Linked DNA regions of Homo sapiens: region 2 is linked to region 1. The links come from fine-mapping of genetic effects on gene expression. Tissue or cell type: iPS cells. Region 1 holds a variant in brackets; the other region holds the start of a gene. All regions are shown on one strand. Distances are from middle to middle.

Evidence for each region. PIP is the estimated chance that this variant, and not a neighbour inherited with it, causes the effect. A credible set is the group of variants that fine-mapping cannot tell apart.
Region 2: NEIL3 starts here. The variant in region 1 is the best candidate, but not a certain one, in a credible set for the expression of NEIL3 in iPS cells (HipSci, PIP 0.58).

Annotation. Positions count from the first base shown.
Region 1 is chr4:177,354,522-177,362,868 of GRCh38, reverse strand. NEIL3 (nei like DNA glycosylase 3) reads right to left here. Exons shown (of 10, transcript NM_018248.3): 9 at 2,192-2,366; 10 at 1-580. The coding sequence ends at 398. LOC105377558 (a long non-coding RNA gene) reads left to right here. Exons shown (of 3, transcript XR_007058384.1): 2 at 5,699-5,874. Among named protein-coding and RNA genes, the nearest start is that of NEIL3, 49 kb to the right of the region's middle. The variant G/A (reference allele first, on the strand shown) is at 4,586.
Region 2 is chr4:177,306,485-177,314,831 of GRCh38, reverse strand. It overlaps NEIL3 (nei like DNA glycosylase 3), which reads right to left and starts at 4,958. Exons shown (of 10, transcript NM_018248.3): 1 at 4,723-4,958. The coding sequence starts at 4,878. RefSeq lists an enhancer at 4,788-4,877 and a silencer at 4,958-5,077.

The DNA.
Region 1 (8,347 bases):
GTTAGTACATGAGAAATGTATTCACTACAGACAGAATATCTTATTTTATTGTGTCGCATAATCCTTTCCTAAAAAAAAAACACTGCTTCTCCCCAGTTACAAGAGACTAAAAGCATACTAAAAACACTTTATCGTCATTACTAAATGCATTAAATACACATCCTAAATGGAATATGCTGTATATCCGATGAAATACATAGAACGTTCATCAAGGCAAAAGAAAAGACGTAGCCAACAATGGAAAGATGGCACACACAAGAAAAAAAAAGAACAGTTCTCAAATATTGCAGTAACTTTTCAATGTATCATAGATATTCTATGACTTTTCTATGAAACAGAGGAGGACCAAACATTATACACAGTTTGAAGAGACTAAATGCCAGAGAATCTACAGATATTAGCATCCAGGAATAATTTTTATTCCTGGCCCATTTTCTGCCCACTGGAAAAAATTGCATTGTTTTTCCTTCCCAAGAGGACACACAAAAAAATTCTTTCCATTGTTAGGTCCAATCTTCAATACTGTTTTCATGGTGGAACGCTTGCCATGGTTGCAGAATGGGAAGGACAAATCTGCCCACTGCAGGAAAAAAAGGTAAATTTACAAGTTTATACAAAAGTTATCATGATGTACAGGCTAACCCTAGGCACATGTGATTAGTGCCATATAGTCTTCACTGCTGTTATCATTAATTTGACATTGTAAAATAGACCAGTAATTAGTCGTCGCCTTTAAAAAAGCTTATATCCTAAAAGAAGCATCTCTCTTACAAATTTGTTTGAATCACGCAGAAAATGGCCATAATTCTGAGCTTCCCTTTATCTAAAGGTATATTTACAGAAGTTTCTTCACTTTGTTAAGAATAATTGAAAACTATCAAAATCTTGCTGTAATCACCAATATCCCTGCTATAGGTCTGTTTCAGTTAAACCTGTAAGATCAGGTGAGGTGCGGTGGCTCATGCCTTTAATCCCGGCACTTTGGGAGGCTGAGGTGGGAGGATAGCTTGAGCACAAGAGTTTGAAACCAGCCTGGGCAACATAGGGAGACCCTGTCTCTAAAAAAATCAAACAACAACAAAAAAAACCCTGTAAGATCAAAGATTTGTCATGATTTTAATATTAAACTTCCTTAGGAAAAGAAAGAATCAAATACTTACGCAGACTGAATTAGACAGATTCTATTATATTATTCTTACTAATTTTGACCTCAAGAGAGATATGAAAAAGGCTATTATATTTTTAGCAATACCATGAATATTGCTAATAATATTTTCCCATTACATCTATAAAAGCTTCTTGAGGAGGAAATCTGTGAATTTTGTAGGGTAGAGTTACACTGTGTTTAGAGATTGAGGTCTAAAATCACTATCCAGTTTTCCCCGGGAAATTCCTTAAGAAGGTATCACATTGAAGACAGATATTTGATCTTTCAAAAAGTCCACCAGAAAATCTTTGCGCCAGCACTGAAACATATCAATATTTTCTTTTTTCAGTTCTATTCCAGATGAAGAGTAACTAGAAAAAATATGTATCTCTGAACATTAGAATCACACTCAGCCTGATGAGATGCTCACACCGAGGAATACCGGAAGTGAGACTGACTAAACGGACCTGAGGTTCTTATCTCCTATCTTAGGTTCATCTTTAGGGATACATCCACAGACTGGAAAGGCAGGAGGAATCGCCTATAGCTAAATTGCTATGGTGCCATCACTTTTTTGGGTCAAGTGTGGTTAAGTAGGATTTGATAAGGTTATTGTAAATCCCAGGCATGTAAATTGCTTTTCTTATAAACCTTTATCCAATGCATAAACCAAAGGTTTTGATGTAGCGCTGAAGTTAGGAAGAACAAATTCTTACCTTGGATTATTAGCCACATATGTACTACTAGTACCTACTAGTCACTCAGTGTCTTTCTAACTTTACAAGCTAAGTGCAACACTTCTAGACTTATGATTATAAATATGATATACTCTAACAATGTAATAGCTATTATTTTATTAAATTTCTTGTGGCTGAACATCTGAATTTTAAGTTAGTCAACATTCAAGCTTTAGACTGAATGCCAATATGGCTATTTCAAATTTAAAGGTAAAAGGTAAAACTAGGAAAGTATTGCTATTTGTTATACATTAATAACCAAAGCATTTAATTACATTTTAGTAAGCTAGATAAATCTTACACATACTTCAAAAAATCCACATTGTGCTTCTCTAGGTAGAGGACAGGCATAAAACTGCCTGCCCTTGTTTTCCCCATCCTTCCCCACAACTCGGAGAATGCAGAGGCGGTTGTGTTTACTGCAGCGAGGGCTGTCAGGATTTAAGGTACGAGGGCCATCTGTCATATTAATTTGAAGTTCACTGTAATGACAGGTTACAAAATAAGTACAGCATAGGAGTGCTAAGGGACCATTCACACCACTTTACCCCCACATGTCAGAATTTCACTTGTACCAAGAAATTCTATCAAAAAGTGGACCTCGTTAACATTAGGTCATTATGCAAAAGGCTGTCTTTATTCTTTGTTTTCCCAGGTAATTCTAATTTATTTCCAAAGTTACCTATGTACCTAAAACACGTAATTTAACTTTCTAAAGAACAAAAGCAGCTGGACTGTGTATCCAGTAAATCAAATTTTATTTTTCATTTGTGATATTCAGTTCTTTTCTTACCCAATATCACACTGTAGCCACTTCTTTTTCCTCTAAAATATTCTCAAGTCCAGGTTCTCCATTCCCACTGGCCCCAAAGTAGCTAGTCACAATCTTCTCTAATTATTTTCTCATCGGTAGCAAACTCTCATCAATGGCTCTGACAAGGCCATAGAAATCACTCTCTCTGCTGTCCACTTTAAAGACAATTTTCTATGCTTTTCTTTGATCAAGGCTACTATAATAGTCGCAATCATATTCCTGCAAGAAACAGGCTGCCTGGCAGAGAGCAAAAATGTGAATTTTGTAAAGCTAGCAGGGAAGCTTTATTCTCCCCCATAATTAGGATCAAGAGTATTTGGAGGTTGCCCTCATACCCAGTGTACACAGGCTAGAAGCTGGCCTTGTACTGTAGCTGTATAAACAGAATTTTCTTCTTGAAAAGAAGCTTATTTAAATTTTCTGTGTTGTGCATATTTTAATAATGCCTTTAAGAGAATTAGTTTTTTAATAAACTGGTTGAAGAGAAAGTGTTCACATTCATTAAAACCAGAAGTCCCCCTCTTAATATTCCTATTTTTTTTTAACTCTTTAATGATAAAACAGTTAATCCATTCTCATCTTTTCGGTAAATATCTAAAGAACAAAAATATCATTCTTAAATAATTGTTAAAAAAAAACTTAAAAATCAAAGGTGATTTCCCTTTTTCCTTGCTTCCTAAACTGCATTTTTTACACACTTGTTTCTATGATGCCTCAATGCATCATATCTAATTGAAATGTTCAGAGAATGCAATCTCTTATTTGTGATTAAATGGACTGAAATTCATTTATATAAAGGATGCTTAAATATACTGCTTTGAAAATGTTTGCTGGGATGAACTCAAACATTCTGAGGGCAGTTTTTGAAGGTTTCTTCAATAGCCATTTGTAAAATAAGAGCAGCTGCAGGCATTGCTAAATCAATCGTCACCATTAAATACTTCACCAGCAACTATTTTGATGGTAACTTTTCCAGGGTAGAGGGGTGGTGGCTGTATTTTCAAGTCATGGGTAATACCAGATCAGAAATAGGAAAGCTGAGAGGCAGAGGACTTTTCTTTTCCACAACCTTTCAGTTCACCAACCCCCTCCAAAACTCCATTTCACCAATCTCCTCCAAAACTTTAACTTCAAGGGAAGCCAGATATCTGGACAGTTGTAGAGAAGTCAAGAGATTTCACAATTAAAGCAAGTGGTTCATAAACAATGCTCTCTTAAAATTAAAGGAGAAAAGATTAAGAATATTAACAAAATTAATGAAATGATGCATTCTTATTAAAAATTGTGTGGACACAAAAACAGTTTTATATATTATTTTAGAGGCGGCTGTTTTGGATAACGGTTGAACATTTTCTAACCTACTTGTTTCAACCTAGAGAGCTCCAGGGTTCCACATATCCAGGGAGAGGTTTAGATTCTGTATTAAAATTTTTCTGGGGAGAAGGGCCAAGGTAGAAGGTAGGATTAAAGTAGAAAGGAGAGGCCCAAATGTCATCTCTCTGCCTTCACTTCTGCCTTCCACTCCATTTCTTCCCTTAAAAATTAAATTAAAAACATAGCCACAGGCTGGGCATGGTGGCTCACGCCTGTAATCCCAGCACTTTGGGAGGCTGAGCCGGGCGGATCACCTGAGGTCGAGAGTTCAAGACCAGCCTGGCCAACATGGTGAAACCCCGTCTCGACTAAAAATAGAAAATTAGCTGGGCGTGGTGGCGGGTGCCTCTAATCCCAGGTACTCGGGAGGCTGAGTCAGAAGAATCCCTTGAACCCGGGAGGCAGATGTTGCAGTGAGCTGAGATCGCGCCATTGCACTCCAGCCTGGCAACAGAACAAGACTCCTTCTCAAAAAAAACAAAAAACAAAAAACAACAACAAAAACATAGCCAC[G/A]TGTGATCTTATTCTTGGTACTCAGAGTGTGGTCCACTGACCAGAAGCAGCAGCATCACCCGGAGCTTGTTAGAAAACACAGACATATCCACCCCTACTCCTGATTGCCTGCAGAATCAGAATCTGCATGTTAGCAGGATTCCCAGGTGATTCATATGCACATTAAGTTATGAAGCACTGAAGTAACGTAACCAAGATACTAATGCCACCTGTATCACACTGGCTCTAAATATGCACAGCTAATCTTAATTTTATGATAGACAACATTATCCAGGATAATTAAATGTTCTGATTAACTGAGGACATCTTAGTTCCTCTTTGTTTTATAAAAACTTTCTAAAATATAGCAGATTTCTTACTTAAATGTAGCATACAGAATTGTTCATTTTCGTGATCATGACCATGATTTTGAATATTAATTCTGGGTTATAAGTGATCTATTAATACAACAGATCGGGGCTGGCAAACCTTTTCAGATAACGTATTTTAGGCTTGCTGGTCTTACGGTCTAAGTTTGTTATCACAAAAAGCAGCCATAGATAATATCTAAACAAATGTAAATAAAGCTTTACACAAACAGGTGGTGGGATGGATTTGGCCCTGCTGGCTATAGTCTGCTCATGTACATGTCATTAGAATCAAGAACAATGCCCGAGGCATAATAGATTCTCAATACTTATTAATAAATAAAACTGAACAGAGACCAGACAAAAACTATCATCAAGAAGGAAGACATTACTAAGCACAGATCTGTAATTTTAAAGTGAATATTATTTTTTCATGGTCAATTTATCACAGTTTAACTTAGGGGTGTCCAATCTTGGCTTCCCTGGGCCACAGTGGAAGAAGAAGAATTGTCTTGGGCCACACATAAAATACAGTAACCCTGGTGACAGCTGATGAACTTAAAAAAAAAATCACACAAAAAACTCACGTTTTAAGAAAGTTCACAAATTTGTGTTGGGCTGCATTCAAAGCCGTCCAGCCCACAAGCCTATGGTTGGACAAGCTTGGTTTAACTCATTTTATAGATAGGGCGATTCATTATAATAAAAATACTGTCTGAATTTTTTGGATTAATCGGTCTCACTGAATGTAGATTTTGTCATACAGGATTATTTCGAGGATTAAAACAAACAAAAGTGAAATGACTCATTCTGGACGGCCCCAGGTGGTTCTGAAATCCTGAGACTGAAAACTCCAAGAAGCAACCAAGAGACAAGGACATGGTGTCAGTACTTGCACTGGTGATTAAAGACAGATCTTCAACATCCCTGACGGCAGCAAATGTGAGAAAATATTAATGATTTTGTTATTGTCATTTCACCCTCCTATGTGAGCCTTTGCATCAACGCAGGAAAAATTTCAGCCTAAAACACATGCATTCTTTGAAACTGCATCACTGTGTTTTGCTCTGTGTTTACAGTAATTGGATCGACAACTTAAACTGTTTCTAGTAATTATTCTTAACTGTTTAAAAATGGGTTCAATCATCTAATTTATAAGCCAATAGCTGGATGGAATACACATCTATCTCAAGACCAATCAGAAAATATGCCTCATCAACACTGCATGGATTGTGTGGTAATGAGAACAGTAATTAAGAGAACAAAAGTCAAAGTAATTATCATATAATATTAAAGAAAAAATAAACTGGCTATAAATTATGAATGGACCACCTGCTTTAATAGTATTATGTTGTGAGCTTCTGCTAGGCATCTTGTCCACAAGATGAACACTATAGCTGCCAGACAAGGAGAAAAATGAAATAAATGACAGTAATTTGCAATTTATTCCTTGTAAAGTAGCTGGGTGCAGAAGGGCTGCTGGGTGAATTTATTTCATCACTTGACATTTATTCTGCTAGTTGATCTTGATTGATTGTGGAGTCTCAGTCCTGGTGTTCTTATATTCAATACATACACAGGCTGCAGCATTCCTAAGTAATGCTGTGCACTGTGATTAATCATATGATCCTATTACTAATGGCTTATGAAGAAATCATTTAAATTTAAGGTTACATTAATGTTTTTTTAAATCCCTAATTCATTAGTTAAAATGTCTGAGATTTTCTACAAAGCATTAAGGAAATAAAAATATGCCAAGATATTTCATCTAGGTACAACAAATGCCACAATATTTTAAGATGATCACTTCTACTTTCCACTTAAGCCACGGAACAGAAAAGACTGTTTGGAAATGATTTTCTGTTCCAGGACAGCCTCCCAACTCAAACATTCTTAATTAACTCCTTAATGAACTTCTATCATGAGGCACTAATTAGGGTTAAAGTGAAAACGTGGTGGATTTATCCAGTCAGTTAAAAGTTTAGCCCCCTTAGCTTACTTCAAATGTGAGTATATGAACAAAAGTTAAACCAGTTATCATAAATGATTATGAACAAGACATTAAAAAAACCAGTCAAGGATAAATCATCAGGATTAACTGATGGTAAATTTAGAGCTGGAATAGGAAACTTGGAGTAAACACATCTATTGAGCAGAGACTGTCTCAGAATTTGTTATGAAATAAGCTTAAGGATTCCTACAGGTTGCTCTAGGAGTTTACACCAAATGGTCCCTCACCCCACCGCTGAGAGAAGGCATCTACCCATCAGTAAAGGCACAGCTAATAAGAGGAAAAGCCAGTGAATCTCAGAATTCCACCTGAGATTACTCTAGGTCCCAACCAAAGTACATCCCTCCATAGCCGTAGGTTCCCAATCCATGAATTCAACCAACCTTGGATCGAAAATATTTGGAAACAAAAAATAATGAAACAATAAAAAAATTACACAAAATATACAGTATAACAATTATTTACACAGCCTTTATATTGAATTCAGTATTATAAGAAGTAATGCAGAGATGAGTTAAATATATGAAAAGGTGTGCATAGGTTATATGCAAGGACTATGCCATTTCATATCAGGGACTTGAGCATCTGCAGATTTTGGTATCCTGGGGGTCCTGGAACAAATCCCTTGAGGATACCGAGGGATGACTGTAACTCCTTCTCTGCCTGTCTCCCATTGGCAAGAAAAGACATACATGGGAGGACGACCCTCCATTTATATGTTATAAATTCTCCACTTATTTAAAAATGCTGGATGTAAGTCAGCTGCTTTCTGAAGGAAAAAAGAAAGCAGCTGAGAAAAGAAAATGGTGGAGAAATGTGTCCTGTGTTGGAGATATAACATCGGGTTGCCATAGTTAGGAATTCCAGATAAAGGGACTGGGAGGGCCAGATAAAGGGGGAAGGAGGGTCAACAGAAAATTGTTTCAGGAGCTGCCGATAATCATTAAGGAAAAGAGAGGATGACGTTATGTATTAAAATTTCTGTATCACAGGTGACAAAAATGAGGGTGTTCTCCTGGACATGTAGCTGGAAGTCCTATAAAATATATCTGCTCTGGTAGTATTTCTTAGTTAGAATTACAACTTTTGAATTTCAGATACAAAGTAGCAAGTATGCTTTTTAGGACTTTTAGTTAAAGAACAACGCCAGGCGTAGTGGCTCACGCCTGTAATCCCAGCACTTTGGAAGGCTGAGGTGGGCAGATCACCTGAGGTCAGGAGTTCGAGACCAGCCTGGCCAACATGGCGAAACCCCATCTCTACTAAAAATACAAAAAAAATTAGCCGAATGTTGTTGCAGTGAGGCAAGATTGTGCCATTGCACTCCAGCTGGGCGACAAGAGCAAAACGCCACCTCAAAGAAAAAAATAAAAATAAAAATAAACACCATCTCGCATGACTGTT
Region 2 (8,347 bases), 48 kb after region 1:
TGCTGGAATTACAGGTGTGAGCCACCGCGCCCGGCCTACAACAACACTTTTTAATCAGAGATCTCTTAAATACCAATCGAAGTCATCAAAGAATATAATTTTAAAGTGATTTCTAAACAACAAAATAGAGGTCCTCAGGCCCATTCATCAAAAACATATTCTACAATTTTCTAAGTGCAGGACCTTCAAGCACTTACTCAGACTAAAGACTTTGTACCTTATCTGAAGGCACCAAATGATTACAAACCCTTCATAAAAATAGGGTGTTCCTCAGATAAATGGGTCTGGTGAGAAAGCTCTGATCCAGAAGAAAAAGGAACAATTCCCAGGATGTTTATTTTGCTAGGTACTAAGCTAAGAATTTTACATGCTGCTTAATTTAATCCTGACCAAATAAGCTAAGATGCAACAATAAGCATCTCCAGACGAGGAAGTAACAAAAAAATGGGAATTCAAAATCAAGATGATCAGATGCTCTCTTCTCTGCAGCATGCCGAATATGTTCATCTTGGATAAAAAGCTACAATGGCCATGGAAAATCACCTCCCCTTTTTCCTCCTTTGTAAGAATGTTTCTGTTCTTTGTTATCCCTTGTTTCATGATTCCATAGGATTCTGGATACCAATAATGATGATCTTGAGTCATTAAGGATAAATCATTATTAGTATCCATTTAAGAAGGTAAGGAAGTATATAATGCATGTTCTCTAAATTATTTAGAAATCCCCTTCAGATGCTTAAAGAAATGAGCCTCATTTTGCTGGAAAATGAATCTCTGTAGATTAGCTCATTTCTTTAAATAATGGCAATAAAATGAGCCACGATTTTTTTCCCCCACTTTGAAGAAGGAAAATTTACTACCTGGTTTATATTCTGGTAGTAGGAATTTCCATATAACATGCACAACAAAATATACACATTCTCATAATGAAAGAGTCCAAATGGAATTTATTTCTAAATCTTTAATCACTTTGCACTATTCAAAACCTTGTTCTTCTCCATCCATTCAACTTTTATTAAATGTCTCCTCAGTTCCTGACACTGTGAAGCATATATAACGATAAATAGCTGGCATATTAAATACATGTATCAAATTTTAAGGAGTGATGGAAATAATCAGACCATGTTTCAAATAAAATGAATGCTTATAAACTGTTTCATATCCTGTTTTGTGAGATTGAAAACACATGCAGATTAAATATGATTTCACTAAAATATTGTATCCACCCAACAATTAAAATCAAAGGATTGACTCTTCAAAGCTCATTAACCAGATATGTTCATTTATATTCCAATATTGTTTCTTACCATAAGTTTCCACAATCTCCAGCAGAGTTTTATGCAATTTGCTTATACTGTTGCACAATTTTATGCTGACAAGACAGTGGATCACGACTCAGAAAAATAATATAGTACATCCATGACTAGCAGATGCTGGGATCTTCTATGGCTAGGTTTTCTCAAAATGAGGATCAGTTGTCACAGGCAGACATGCATTCAAGTGTGTTCTCTATAAACTTTATACTGTAACAAAGAGGAATGCTATATGACACAGTAACAGTCCATTATGGCAATAACTACTGAAGTAGTGTTTTTTGGTTTGTTTTTTGGTATGATTATCTGAGGTTTAAATATTTTATTTTGAATGCCCATTAAATATTTCTTTAGCTCTCATTAGTAACTTTTTCCATGTTTACTGCACTGTAAAGAATGCAGTATGCAGTTATTAAATTATTTTTAAATGCTGCCTTGTGAAAACTAATCATTTCAAGCCAGTAGCAGAAACATTTAAATAGCTTTAACTCTTTGGCATAAATGCCTAGGAGACATGGGATCATCTGCTACAGTAATGATCTTGCCAGAGGTTTGTGACAACCTACCATGTTTTAATGAAATTTACTATGGATCCCTCTAAAATGCAAAAGACTCTTCATGTTTACAAAAGGTTATAATTATGTTTTTTTTTTCAGATCAAAGTCCCAGAAAATGAAGCCATAGTAAATTATTTAGAAATTTACCAACAGCCTCAAAGAATGTATTCCTTCCATATTGATTTTAAAATCCAGTGTCCATAGAACCAGATTCCTGATACTAACCACAAAGACCTATTCCAATTTTTAATGCCTCTTTCTATCAAGGTATCAAAAATAATACCTTTAAATGCCAGGCTTTTTATGTGTGGGGTATAACTTATTGAATATTGCTGCCAAGTGATGTTAATAATTGCCTAACCATTACTGACGCATTTGTATTATATTATCAGGCTGCACTCTTTTGTGCAATCCAAACATGGCCATAGAAGCTGTTAGAAGAGAATTATCAGAATAGATATAAGAGAATTGACTCAACCGAACAAAACTAAAAATGGTGGTAGACACAGCCAAAAATCCAAGATTGCACTTTTCTATTTAATAAATAACCACTACTATATACTGAGCATTATGGTGTTCTTACCGTTGTATGCTAAAAAAGCAATAAAGATCCTACTGAATCTTTTATGGCTGAGAGGAGCTATGGCATGGTTAAGAGGGTAGGCTTTGGAGTTTTAAAGAAAAATCAAACCCTGGTTTAGCCCCTTACTAGACATGTGATCTTGGGCAAATTTACTTAAAGTCACTCTGAGCCTCATATGCCTCATCTGTAGAATCAGGTTAATCCTTTATCATAGGGTTATCCTTTTTCATGACTGAATGAAATGTAAAAGCATCTCATGCCATACCATCAGAGATAATCACAACAAAACTTAAAAGGAAATGTTTAAGCTATTTTTCCTAAATACCAATGAGGTGATATTTATTTAAAACATTAGGTTGGACTCTCACAGCAGAAAGCATATCCTACTCATCTTCGTATCCGCAGGAGCTAGCATAAAACCTAACACAAAATACGTTGTGGTTGAATGATGTAAATGATGATATCCCTAAGTATATTCATGTCATATCCATTGCTTAGCCCTCCCATCATAGTGATTCTCTTGTCTTCATCTCCACCACCAGCACTTGACCCCAAATTTGTCACCTGGATTTCTGCAGTCGACTCCTAAATGAGAGGGCAGTGTCTACTCTGGCTTTCTTTCAGTCTTTTTCCTGTTCCAATCCCTGAGCTGCATGGCTTCTACTCACCCTGCACACCTCAGCTTTTTTTTTTTTTTTTTTTTTGAGACAGAGTTTCGCTCTTGTTGCCCAGGCTGGGGTGCAATAACGCGACCTCAGCTCACTGCAACCTCCACCTCCTGGATTCAAGCGATTCTCCTGCCTCAGCCTCCTGAGTAGCTGGGATTACAGGCATGCACCAGCATGCCTGACTAATTTTTTATTTTTGTAGGGATGGAATTTCTCCATATTGGTCAGGCTGGTGTTGAACTCCCAACCTCAGGCGATCTGCCCACCTCAGCATCCCAAAGTGCTGGGATTACAGGCATGAGCCACTGCACCCGGCCCACACCTCAGCTTTGCTACTTCCCTGGGGAAGCCTTCCCAGGTCTTCCTACAAGTCCTTAAAGAATCGTGTATCTCTCCTTCACAGAACTTATTAATTTATATTTCTTTAGGTGATTATTTAATGAATGTCTTTGTGTCTTCCCAACTGAAGTATAGGCTCCAAAAGAGGAAGTATTTGTTTTTGCTCCCCAGGTGTCTTGAGTATTCAAAATTTTATTGAATGAGTAATTTTCATAAATATTAATATTCTTAAGAAACCATCTAAAATCCATCTCTGTGGTACCCTGAAACGATTTTAGAAACACTATAACAATAATAAAAAAAAATAGGTACAGAGTACTTACTGGCATATCAAGTCAAAATAAACAAAAGGGCAATTGGAAGGAGATGTAAAACTTATTTTTTCCCAAGTTTGAAAATATATTTTCTTAGACTTAGAACCTCATTTCTTTCAAGTTGTAAGCATATGCTAATTTCATAGCAGGCAACTTTTTCTTCCAGGACCAAAGGCTATAAGAAGCTTTGCAGAAGAAATTGAAATACAGTGCAATATTGCATGTAGGCATGAAATACAATCATCCATACATCTAGAGGGCTTTTAAAACATGATGCCTTAATCAGAATATTTTTAGTACAAGTTCTGGCCAAATGAATACCACATCGTCTGCAATGAATGCCTGAGTGGCAAGAAGCTGTGCTAGTTTACTTTAAAAAGAAATAAATTCACTTAAGGGAACCAGAACTGGGTTTCATTGCCCCTTAATTAGATGGCAATATGAAGTTGAGTGAGAAGTTAGTGCTAAATTTTCTACGTGTAGTTTTAGAATTATATACTAGTTGTGATATACTTACCAATTGCAGATTAGCCAAGCAAGAAAGTAGAATTTTATGCTAAAAGCTTAAAATGGGACGAAGAAAACATATCAGAGGTAGCAGAGATTTGATAATATCAATAGTAAAAAATGCAGCTGTAGACATGGGAAACCATGTGTGTATCATAAAGAAGTTAAGTAAGGTGACTCGGATAAAACACCTTCACTGGATTCCCCTAGGGCATCTTGCTCCGGCAGCGTGAGCCCAGAACGCTAGCCCTCCTCTCCTGCGCAGGCGCGCTAGGACCGACTTCTCCCTACAGTAAAGTGACGATAAACTCTGTGAAAGGTGGGACCCCAGGAAACCTGGGCCAGAGCAAAGAGATGACACTTTAAATCCTGGAACCCTGATGGGGTCTTTATTCCATTTCCCCCCTGCTGACTGCATGGCCTGTTACAGGAGTAGCTCACCTGCGGGGAGACCACAACCGTGGAGGCTGCGAGCCGCAAGGCGCGGCCCTGCAGACTCCGCAGAGCGCTTCCCCGCACGCCGGTCACCGCCTGGCCCGGGAGCACCCGCGCGCGAATCTTCTCTCCATTCAGAGTACAGCCTGGTCCTTCCACCATCTCTGTGGCCGGCACTGTGGCCCACCGATTGCAGGGCCTGGTGAGAATACCGCTGTGCAACTCAACGCTGCGCGGGCACTGACCGCACGCAGAGGAAATTCAAATCTCGCGCGCGTCTGGCCCCGCCCAGGCCCCGCCCAAACAGCACCCTAGCTGTTGAGGTCGCTCCCTACGGCGCATGCGCTGTGGTTCACCCCCGCCCTAGGTCTTGCTGTGGGTTTATTAAGAAAACGCAAACGCGCGTGGGGCGGGGGGCGTGGAGGACAACTAACTAGGCTGAACTGTAAAAGCAGAAGAAATTGGGACTTGGAAAGCTCTGAATGTATTTTCTTTGCGTTAAAGTTTTGCCCTTGTCTTTGAGCTACTTAGTATACACACATTTTCTGATCTGGTCCTCTTAATCTGTCCTTGTCTGTGACAGGACAGATATGTCACAGACAATCTTGTTTTTGGCTCTGTTTTTGGCATGCTATATTCGGACGTGGGTGGGATAAGAGAAACGAAGAAGAGGGTTTTTGGAACAAACAGCAGAATATATTCTAGTGTCTATATTTAAAAACTCCATTATTAGATAGTTAAGTGAGCCCTACCTAAGTGCATGCATCCATTTTGTAAGGGGACGCCCCAAGATGAAAGCTATATGAAATTGCTTTGTTAAACGTAGAGGTTTATATAAATTTGAGGGTAATGCGTAGCTTTTCAAATTTACCCACAACCCTAACCAAAGATGCATGCATACATATAAATCTATGAAGTTTATGACTCCATATAGTTTTGTAAATTATAAAGTGTATTCTTTTTTGAAAACTGAAATACTACACATTAAAACAGAATGTCAATTTCTAAGTGATTTCATAAGCATAGCACTGTGCTGCCGTTAAACCACAAGAGCATATACACAGGTGGTTGCTGACTTAGGATGCCCCAGCGTAACAGTGTTTTGACTGTATGATGGTGCAAAAGTGACACACAGTAGAAACTGTACTTTGAGTACTCATATAGCCATTCTGTTTTTCATTTTCAGTACAGTAGTCAATAAATTATTCAACACTTTATTATAAAATATGCTTTGTGTTAGGTGATTTTTCCCAACTGTAGGCTAATGTAAGTGTTCTGAACACATTTAAGGAGGGCCTCGTGAAGCTATGATGTTTGGTAGGTTAGATATATTAAAGGCATTTTCGACTTACTGTATTTTCAGTTTACAACGGGTTTATCAGGACATAACCCCATCGTAAGTTGAGGAGCATCTGTATACTAGAGAGTTGAATTTGAATATACTGAAGACTTGATTGAAATTTTGAAAAGTATTAAATCTTTCCTTTGCAGGGAGAGATTAGTGATCAAAAGTTGGCTGGATCAATTTCAGGACTATTTGTACTTTACTCCCTTGTTCAATTCAATAATCTCTGTCCTTTGATGGAGAAAAGTCCTATATACCTTCTCCTCTTTCAGCGTTGTACTAGTTATTTATTGTTACCTCATCAATTATCCCATTTGTTATTTCAAAGTTTCTGTGGGTCAGGAATTTGGCAATAGTCTAGCTAGCCAGAGTCATCCTGGCTCAGCATTTCTCAAGAGGTTACAGTTAAAATATTAGCCAAGGCTAAAGTGCCCCAAAGGCTTTTTGTAGCTAAAAGATCCACTTCCGAGATGAGTCACTTGCATGGCTGTTGGCAGGAGGCCTCAGTTTCTCACCTCTTGTGTCTCTATAGTGCAGCTCGGCTCTTCTAATGACATGGCAGCTGAGAGTGTGATCCAAGAGAGAAGTCAAGGAGAAAGCTGCAATGCCCTTTATTACTTAGTCACCCTTTATTACTTAGTTTACTATGGTAACTTACTTCTTATTCCATTCATTAGAAGCCAGTCATTAAATACAGTGCATTCACAAGGGGAGGGGAATTAAGCTGTGATTTGAAAGGAGGGATATCAAAGAGCTTGTGGACAAATTTAAAAAATATCAACCTGTTCATTTATCTGATTCACCTCATTTCTCTTTAAGGTGTTGTGTACTGTGCACATTTGGGTCAAATACGATCTTTAATTAGTAAGAGTTGGGGACTGACACTGAAGGCATTAAGAGATTTCACTGGCGTGACTGAAAGGCGGAGTCAGATTTTGTTTTGTTTTGTTGGCTGGAGTGCAGTGGCCTGACCTTGGCTCACTGCAACCTCCACCTCCTGGGTTCAAGCAATTCTCTTGCCTCAGCCTCCGATGTAGCTGGGATTACAGGCACCTACCACCACGCCTGGCTAATTTTTGTATTTTTAGTAAAGACGGGGTTTCACCATGTTGGCCAGACTGGTTTTGAACTCCTGACTTCAAGGGATCCACCCGCCTTGCCTCCCAAAGTGCTGGGATTACAGGCATGAGCCACTGCACCTGGCCCAGATTTTGTTTATATGTGACTAGCCTCTGAGTCCTTTGGTATATCTCTTTGATCTTGCTTCTTACGTCCAATCAAAAGCAAACTCGCATACGCTGTGTATCTACATTGTCTGTAAAAAGAGCCCACAACATTGCAAGCAAGCCTACCCTAGTGCAGACCCTTGCTACATTTCAGCTGGACTATGTCAGGATCCTGCTAACTGCTATCCTCCTTGAATTTTCTCTTGTGCACTCTTACCAGAGGAACCTTCACAATTTCTTCTTAAGTCCAATTTACTAATTTCAGTAAATTTGCTAAATCTATTAAATTGTGCTATTTGATAACCATATATATATATGTCATTTATCTTTTCCAAAACTCACTTTCTTCATATGGACAATAAATAATACTTTTTCTATACACCTGCATATGATTGCTCTAATTTCCATACACAACATAGCTTATGTGAAAGCACTTTGAAAACTATGAATACTCTACGAAATTAAGATAAATTGTACTTATTCCCAGAATATATTTTGTACCTTTTGTTTTTTGGCTCATGCTATTATTCTCACCTTTTCTTTTTTCCAAGACAGAGTCTAGCTCTGTCTCCCAGGCTGGAGTGCAGTGGCGTGATCTCAGCTCACTGTAACCCCCACCTCCTGGGTTCAAGCAATTCTCCTGCCTCAGCCTCCCGAGTAGCTGGGATTACAGGCACCCAACACCACCCCCAGCTAATTTTTGTATTTTTAGTAGAGACCAGGTTTTGCCATGTTGGCTAGGCTTGTCTCAAACTTTTGACCTTAGGTGATCCGCCCACCTCAACCTCCCAAAGTGCTGGGTGGGATTACAGGCATGAACCACCGTGCCCGGCCTATTCTCACGTTTTTAATACCTCCTCTTTTTCCCAGTTTACTGAAGTTCTCCCAATTTTTTTTTTTTTTTTTTTTTTTTTTTGACATGGAGTCTCACTCTGTCACCCAGGCTGGAGTGCAGTGGTGCAATCTCGGCTCACTGCAACCTCCATCTCCTAGGTTCAGGCAGTTCTCCTGCCTCAGCCTCCCGAGTAGCTGGGACTACAGGCATGCACCAACATGCACT